Linked DNA regions of Homo sapiens. The protein of the gene in region 2 interacts with the protein of the main gene of each other region in a pairwise test. Each region holds a gene or a part of one and is shown on either strand. Other genes may lie near its edges.

Region 1 (3,916 bases), on a different chromosome or scaffold from region 2:
TTCTGTTGGGAGATAAAATGATAGATAAAAATTCTGCAAAGAGCAAACCACCTCACGAAAAAGGATCATGTCTTACTTCTTCTCTTACGGCTAAATCATTCTCCAGACACAGCCTAAAAGGTTAGGGCATTCCAGTGAGTATATATCAGGATATGGAATTGACTTTACGAATCCATTCCTTTACTTTGCAAATGAGTTTCACAAGGCACAGCAGAACCAGTTGGAGCCAGAGAAAAATTTAGAATTTTGGATTCTTAGCTCCAAGCCCAGTATAGTGGGATATAATTCTTTGACAAGCCTGTACACTGCTTCAGGACAGAGGAGCTAATGTTTGCCACTTTTATTTATTTAGAGACAAGGTCTCACTCTGTCACCCAGGCTGGAGTGCAGTGGTGCGATCTCAGCTCACCGCAGCCCCCACCTCCTGGGCTCAAGCGATCCTCCCACCTCAGATTCCTTAGTAGCTAGAACTGCAGGTGTGTGCCACAATGCCCAGCTAATTTCTGTTTATTTTTGGTAAAGATGGGGTCTCACTATGTTGCCCAGGCTGGTCTTGAACTCCTGGGCTCAAGCAATAGGCCTGCCTTGGCCTCCCAAAGTGCTGTGATTACAGGTGTGAGCCACCATGCCCAGCCTGCCATTTTTATTTTTATTTCACTTGATCTTGATGCCTTGGTTGTGGACAATGATGTGGAAGTACTGGGGTCTAAAGCAAGGATGCAGCACAGTGGTCCATTTAGAACCCAGAGTCTCTGAATACTTCTTTCTGGTCTACACAGTGACCCCCTGAGCCCGTCTGCATGGACATAAGGAACATGGCAGGCTCCTGTCTTCCCAGCACCAGTTCCCCCTCTCCCTGCATGCTGGAGGCAGGGATGGAGTGATGTATCCATCACTGGGGCTCCAGCGGCTCTTTTGTGTCTGGGAGCCAGAGGGAAAGGGAGGCAGCTTCAAGGTCTTCTTTTCTCTCTCACCTTTTGTAATTGCTTCTCCCTGGTTAAGTTGGGCAAATAAAGCTGAGCGTGAAGGAGAAGATTCCTCTTTTTTGCCTTCATTCTCGAAAAGTGGAGGTGGCCCTGGAGGAGGCAGAGGAGGAGGGGGTGGAGGAAGGCCAGGCCCAGAGGAGAGGACAGAAAACGCTGATACTGTGGATGCTACAGGACCCTGAGAAGACAGAAGACAGGGCATTGCATTGCATTGAGACTGCGCCCTTGCTGGGATTTTGCCCGAGAGAGTCGAAACCTGCTGCCAATGAGAGAGTGGGGTTGAAGCCTGAGCAAAGGCTCCCAGAGGGCACACCTGTGCATCATGGGTCTGTTTGGGAGGATCTGAACCATGGCAGCTCCAGCTTGGGAAAGTGGAACATGACTTAGCTGTGTGGCCCCATCAGTAGGATCTGTGCGGCAATGAGCCCTGCTGCCAAATCAGAGGCAAACGAGCCATACTCCCAAGTCCAGGTCCAAGGCTCAGGATCTAAATGACACTGGGCCTTGGCCAATTTAGAATCACAAGAAAAAAGTGATCCAATTGATAAAACGATTAGCTCTTTTGAGACACTGGAAACTGTGACCACCAATGGGGTGTGGGGAAGGGTAAAAATATTCAGTGGTGATTGGATGTTTCCGAACCTTTTTAAGCAGTGAAAGAGAGAGATACAGAAACTCTCTGGACCTGATTTTCCAAATATGCCTGCTGCAAACTGACCCCCAAACAAGGAGCATATGTGACCGGGATGCTTGTCAAACCCGAAGGTAATGAGGGTCCAGGATCCACATGACTTTTCATCAAATGTTGGCTGTTAGTGAACCAACTGAAAATTAGATTCTTCCTGATCCAAGAGCTATGGTTATTCTTATTTTCACTGCTATGTAAAGCACAACCTTTGTTTTCAGTATGAAAGCCTAACAAATTCAAATGGCAATAAGACGTGATAGACAAGAGAGAGACTTGCTTTAGTTCAGTTTTGCTTTTTTTTAAGGAGACAGGGTCTCACTCTACTGCCCAGGCTGTGTGCAGTGGCGTGAACATAGCTCACTGCAGCCCCAAACTCCTGGGCGCAAGCGATTCTCCTGGCTTAGCCTCCTGAATAGCTGGGACAACAGGCATGTGCCACTCTAACTGGCTAATTTTTAATTTTTTTTTTTTTTGAGAGATGAGGTCTCACTATGTTGCCCAGGCTGGTCTTGAACTCCTGGCTTTAAGTAATCCTCCTGCCCTGGCCTCCCAAAGTACCAGTTTTAATATTTTGGAAAATATCCAAAATATTGTATATCTGTGATATTTTCACAGAACTTAAAACTGGTAGGATAGAAACACACATATACCACAAACTTGGCCTATATACTGTTTTACTTTTATTTAATTTTGAGATGGAGTCTTGTTCTGTTGCCCAGGCTGGAGTGCAGTGGCATGATCTCGGCTCCCTACAACATCAGTCTCCCAGGTTCAAGCAATTCTCCTGCCTCAGCCTGTTGAGTAGCTGGGATTAAAAACATGCACCACCAAGCCCAGCTAATTTTTATATCTTTAGTAGACACAGGGTTTTGCCATGTTGGTCAGGCTGGTCTCGAACTCCTGACCTCAAGATTATCCACCCGCCTCAGCCTCCCAAAGTGCTGGGATTACAGGTGTAAGCCACTGTGCCCGGCCCTGTTTTACTTTTGAACCCTCAAGTAGAACTGTATACCTATAATAGGGAACTATAAACAAATTAAATAGTCACGAAGCTTAAAAAATTGCGAGTAATGGAAATGTGGCTTGGACTCATCAATTTTCAATATCAAATATGAAAGGTAAAACATTACGTAAGTGCCAAATATTAATGAAAACAGAATATCCTTATTGTCATAAACAATTTAGTATTATGCAGTATCAAAATCAGCGATTCTTAATCTGTAGTAGTTTTCAGTTAAAAACAAAACAAAACAAAACATGCTGGCTCGGGCATGGTGGCTCATGCCTGTAATCCTAGCACTTTGGGAAGCCGAGAAGGGTAGATCGCTTGGATCACTTGAGCCAGGAGTTTGAAACCAGCCTGGGCAACAAAGTGAGACCCTGTCTCTACAAAAAATACAAAAAATTAGCTGAGCATGGTGATGCATGCCTGTAGTCCCAGCTACTGCGGAGGCTGAGGTGGGAGGATCACCTAAGCCTGGGAGGCAGAGGTTGCAGTGAGTTGAGATCACGCCACTGTACCCCAGCCTGGAAAACAGAGAGTGAGACCCTGTCTCAAAGCAAAACAAAACAAAACAACACAACACGCTATTTTCAAAGCACTTATATAATTCCTATTAAGTGTAGAATTACCCTGAAAATAAAATATAATTGTCTTATTCAGAATGCATGTTTTAGAAACCCTGCAGGCTGGAGGGCTCATCTCCTGAAGATTTAATTTGCAATAGTCTTTGTTTCTAAGAAAGAGCAGCCTAATTCCATCAGGTTTCTTAGGTCAAGTAGAAAATGATTTCACAGTTCCTGAGACTGACCATTTTTCTCACCAGTATTTGAAATGTTTTCTATGTTACTGGGATAAAATTTGAGAATTTGCTCTGAATCAGAAAGAGAGTATAATATAAGCTTTGGACATCAAACAGTATTCTAGTCCTCAGACACTGAGAACCACGAAGTATTACTTTTACTCATAAGCACATCATAACTCATACAGCCGGTGAAGGGACAGCCCCTTCCCCCAACATCTGAAACACTGCAGCTTTATAGTCCTATTTTGTGTAAAGGGAAGATGATGCTGGCTTCTAAATCTTAAAATGATTTAGATGGTTCCCTAGCTCTCAGAATTCAGAGACTCTCTCTCCAAGAGCCATTAAAGGACACTGAAACTAAAAAGCCACATATTCAACTTTTTGGAACTTTGATACATTCAGATGGCTGGCCCAGGAACGCGAGACAAAGCATTTAA
Region 2 (3,916 bases):
TTTAGGGAGAGGGTTGAGACAACACTGCCAGCAACACAGCTGGAATCACCCGAGTCGGGAACATTAAAGTTCCTGAGAGAATATGAAACAACTATCAACATAATATTTCTCCCTACTTTTACAGTAAAATATTGGAAGTAAATAAATATAGGGAATGCAACAACTGGCTAGGAGTGTTTTACATTCAGTTGTTTGGAAGCATAACACATTCAGCTCCTTTGAATCTTCCCGTTAGAAAATACAGAATTACTCTATCACCTTTTAAGGTACAGTAAGACAAGAAAAAAAGTCATGTGAGGATAATACAGTCTTTGCATTAAAGGTGAATCTGCAACATGAAATCTGCTCGACTCACAGATCTGGAGATTCATAGGGAAGATAAGCTCTAAGTGACCATGTCACAGAGATATGCAGGTGCTGAATTTCTTAGTAGATGCTGCCTGAGTAAACCAGATGTGGCTACTGGGCAAAGGGAGGAAAGAAAATAAATCTTGTCCTCTACATGCATAGTTATGTTGTGAGAATGATCCCCAAACTGAAAAAATCATTTAGTTTTCACAAGGAATTAATTAGGCAGGCCAGCTCACTTTAAACAGTAGCTCATCTCCTTAAACCTAGTTTTTACCAATGACTTGAACTAAAAACAATTCAAACCACTGGGTCATGCACAGTCAATAAGTTAAAAAACTATAAGAAAAAAAGGCATAAGGGCATGAGTGGAAAATAAACCCTATTTAACTAAGGGGTAGGGAGTGGGAGCAAGAAAACCACTTAGTATTTTGTATAGAATGGGGAAGAGAGGAAGATATTTTCATTATGGCTTTAGGATGGAAGCGCTTCAGATAGTCCCCTGCCCCATTCCTCCAAATCAAAGCCCCAGTGGCAGTGACAGTACCAGGAAACAATCTAGCCTCCCCGCCCACCCCGCCCCCATAACCGTGCCCGGCGGCTGCTGTCCAGTCGCCCGTGCTTCCCAAGGCTGCCGAGGAAGCGGCTGCTGCTCATTCCAGTAGATCCAACGCCCAGGCTAGGGGGTAGAGACACAGCCCTTGTGGTAGGGTAGGGCACGTCTTCGGCCCACCGCTCCTGGGCGCCAGTGGCTTCAAGGGAAGACCTTGGGACCTGGATAGGGTTCTCCCTCGCACCAGAAGTCATCGGCCTGTGGGGTCTCCAGGAGCCACACCTCTCGAGGCAGGTCACAGGCCGAGCTGGAGGCCTCCTTGGGCCTGACCGGCTCCAGCACCCGGTAATAGTGGCAGTCCCGGCCATCGTCCGGGTCGTAGGGCGGGGCCAGGATGTCCAGGAAGGCGGCAGGCCCTTCCACGGCGTCGATCTGGTGCAGGTTGTCCCGGTGCGGTGTGAGGATGCAGGGGCCGCTGGCCTCGGTGTACTCGGCCCGCGAACGCAGCACGCCCGGCCGCACGGCTTCTCGCTCCCGGGGCTGCAGCGGCGGCTCGAACTGCTGCTCGGGCGGCAAGGCCCGCGGCCGTTGCCCGCCGCCCGCGTCTAGCTTGTCCATGCAGCTGATGCGCACGGTGCCGTACAGCACCTTGAGCATGCCGTGCATGCCCGGGTGGTCGTGCAGCGGGATGGACGTGCCGCTCTTGAGCAGGAACACGCCCAGGCTGAAGCCGTCCGTCTCGTAGATGTGCATGTAGGTGACTGGCGGCAGGTTGGGCGGCAGCGGCTGCAGTGTGGCCTTGCGCGGGGCGATGTTCAAGTCCTCGGCGCGGAGCTGGGTCAGGAGGCTCTTCAGCTTGCTCAGGTTCTCGGGGAAGCCCGGCTGCATCGGCGCCTCCGGGCCAGAAGCCGCGTCGCGATCGGAAGCGCCGCGGCCGCCCCCGCTGCCCCGGAAGGTGAGGCAAGCCTGGCGGGCGATCCGTTGGATCAAGGAGGCCATGTTGTCTCGGGGCATGGTCGGCTGCTCCTCTGCGTGCCGGGACCGGCCCCCTCCTTTCCTCCGCCCCTTGCGGTCCCCGGCGGCCGCCACGGCTGCCCCCAGCCCGGGTCGAGGCGGGAGGCCCCGCAACCACCGGCCCGTCGGGCGCGCGGCACCGCCGCCAACCTCAGCAGCCACGCGCCCGCAACTGCCCGGCGCGCTCGCCTTGAGCCCCCTCTGAGCGCGCACGCGCACGCCCCACACCCCGCACTCACGCTCCGGGAGCAGATAGCGGCCGCGCAGACGGTGCCAGGCTTTGCCTTACGCCCGGCGCTCCATTCATGCGGCCCGCACCTACGACGGTGGCCGGGCGCCCGGGGACCCTGCGGAGCATGCCGGGACTTGTAGTCCGGCCTTCCGCTTGAGCTCTGAGATAGTTCAGTTTGTTGATTGGAAAATAGAGGAACTATTACACATGTTGGGCATAAAGCGATCTTTTTCAGGATGCAGAGGTGTTTTTCTTGTTTTAGAAAAGATGAATCGGGGTGGAAGATTAGTAGCCACTTGACTACAACTCCCGGCACTCCCCGCAGGGTGGAGTGACGCACTTCCGTCAGCTGGCCCCCGGAGTAGTGGAGGCTCTTGGCCTTCATAAGGAAAGGGGCAGGGAGGGTCGTTAACCTTCTGGCGCCGCGCTGGGGCCTGGTTAGCCATGCAGGGTCGCCTTCCTTTGGCCTTGCCCCTGGGAAGGAGGCTGTTGAGTCAGCCTTAGCTCCTCGTAGCGGCCTAGGCAGCACTGTCTCCCACGGGAATTGCAGGAGGGCGCTTTTATAATTTTGTGTTTCCTAGGAGGGGAGGGGGTCCAGGCCGTCCTCTGTGATCATCAAGGTTACTCGGCCCAGCTGGGCCCAGCTGGGCCCAGCTGTTGTTTGCATCAGGACCTGATGACGCTGCTCTTCTGGTTACAGAGCAGTATAGCTTTTTGCTGGAGAGACTTGAGAGGCCATTTACAGTGGTCGTGGATTCTGAACATACTAGTGGTTATCAAATCTTGGTTTGCCTGAGAAGGGGGAGCGGGCTTTTATAAATGCAGATTCCCTGTCGTCACCCAGAGATGGAGTTACTAGATGGTTCTGAGGCATCCTAGGAGAAATAGTGGTGTGCAACAGTCAGTTCAGTCAGTAATTGTGAAATTGTTTCACTACACAGAGGCATCCTTCTCCTTGGCGTGAACTAACTTTTGGCATAAGTAAATGACTAGAAAAGCAAGACATTAGATACTATGACTTTAAACTTAACCCTGAGTTTAAAGTCTTTTTGGATTCCAAAGCTGAACATGGGTTTCTTGTACATTTTGTAATTGGAGTGGTTCAGTGAATCCTCTCCAGTTAAAATAGGCATACTTTTTAAAGTGGATTACATAACCTGGCTAATGAGTACTCACAATATGCCAGGCACTGTGTTAAGTGCATTATATAATGAATGTTATACTATTTAATCCTTGCAGCAACTCTTAAGAGGCAGGCACTATTATTATTCCCAGATTGCAGATGAGGGAATAAGTTGTAGGATAGTGAATACTAAGTACCCAGCAAAGCATGAGCAGCAGAGCAGAAATAAGTACAGTCTTACCAAAAACAGCAGCTTGAATTGGTGTAAAAGCACCAAACGAGAGTCAGGATATTGTTGTTCCAGCCTACTGTGTGTACTTACAAGCTGTGTGTCGTTAGGCAAATCCTACCCTTTTAGGGCCTCAATTTATTCATTTGTAGAATGCCGGTGTTAAGGGAACAAAAGTTCTGAACCCTACTCATCAGAACCCCCTGGAGAGCTTAAAAAATAAAGATCTTGGGGTCACACCTCAGAGATTTTGATTCAGAAGAACTGGAGTGAAGCCTATTTTTTTGTGTGTGGTTTTTTTTTGTTTGTTTGTTTGTTTGTTTTGAGGGGTAACAAGGTTTATCGTGAAGAGCGAAATAACAAAGCTTCCACAGCTTGGAAGGGGACCACAGCGGGTTGCCCCTATGATTTATATTT

Evidence for each region.
Region 1: the proteins of ADO (region 2) and CAP2 interact in binary tests that used the Homo sapiens proteins (3 or more experiments, as listed by UniProt).

What each region holds. Positions count from the first base shown.
Region 1 is NC_000006.12:17,536,517-17,540,432, reverse strand, and holds part of CAP2 (adenylyl cyclase-associated protein 2), read right to left. Parts: intron 1,165-3,916; coding exon 975-1,164; intron 1-974. UniProt on the Homo sapiens protein: Involved in the regulation of actin polymerization.
Region 2 is NC_000010.11:62,803,059-62,806,974, reverse strand, and holds the start of ADO (2-aminoethanethiol dioxygenase), read right to left. Parts: upstream 2,256-3,916; 5' UTR 1,916-2,255; coding exon 1,103-1,915; 3' UTR 1-1,102. UniProt on the Homo sapiens protein: Plays a vital role in regulating thiol metabolism and preserving oxygen homeostasis by oxidizing the sulfur of cysteamine and N-terminal cysteine-containing proteins to their corresponding sulfinic acids using O2 as a cosubstrate.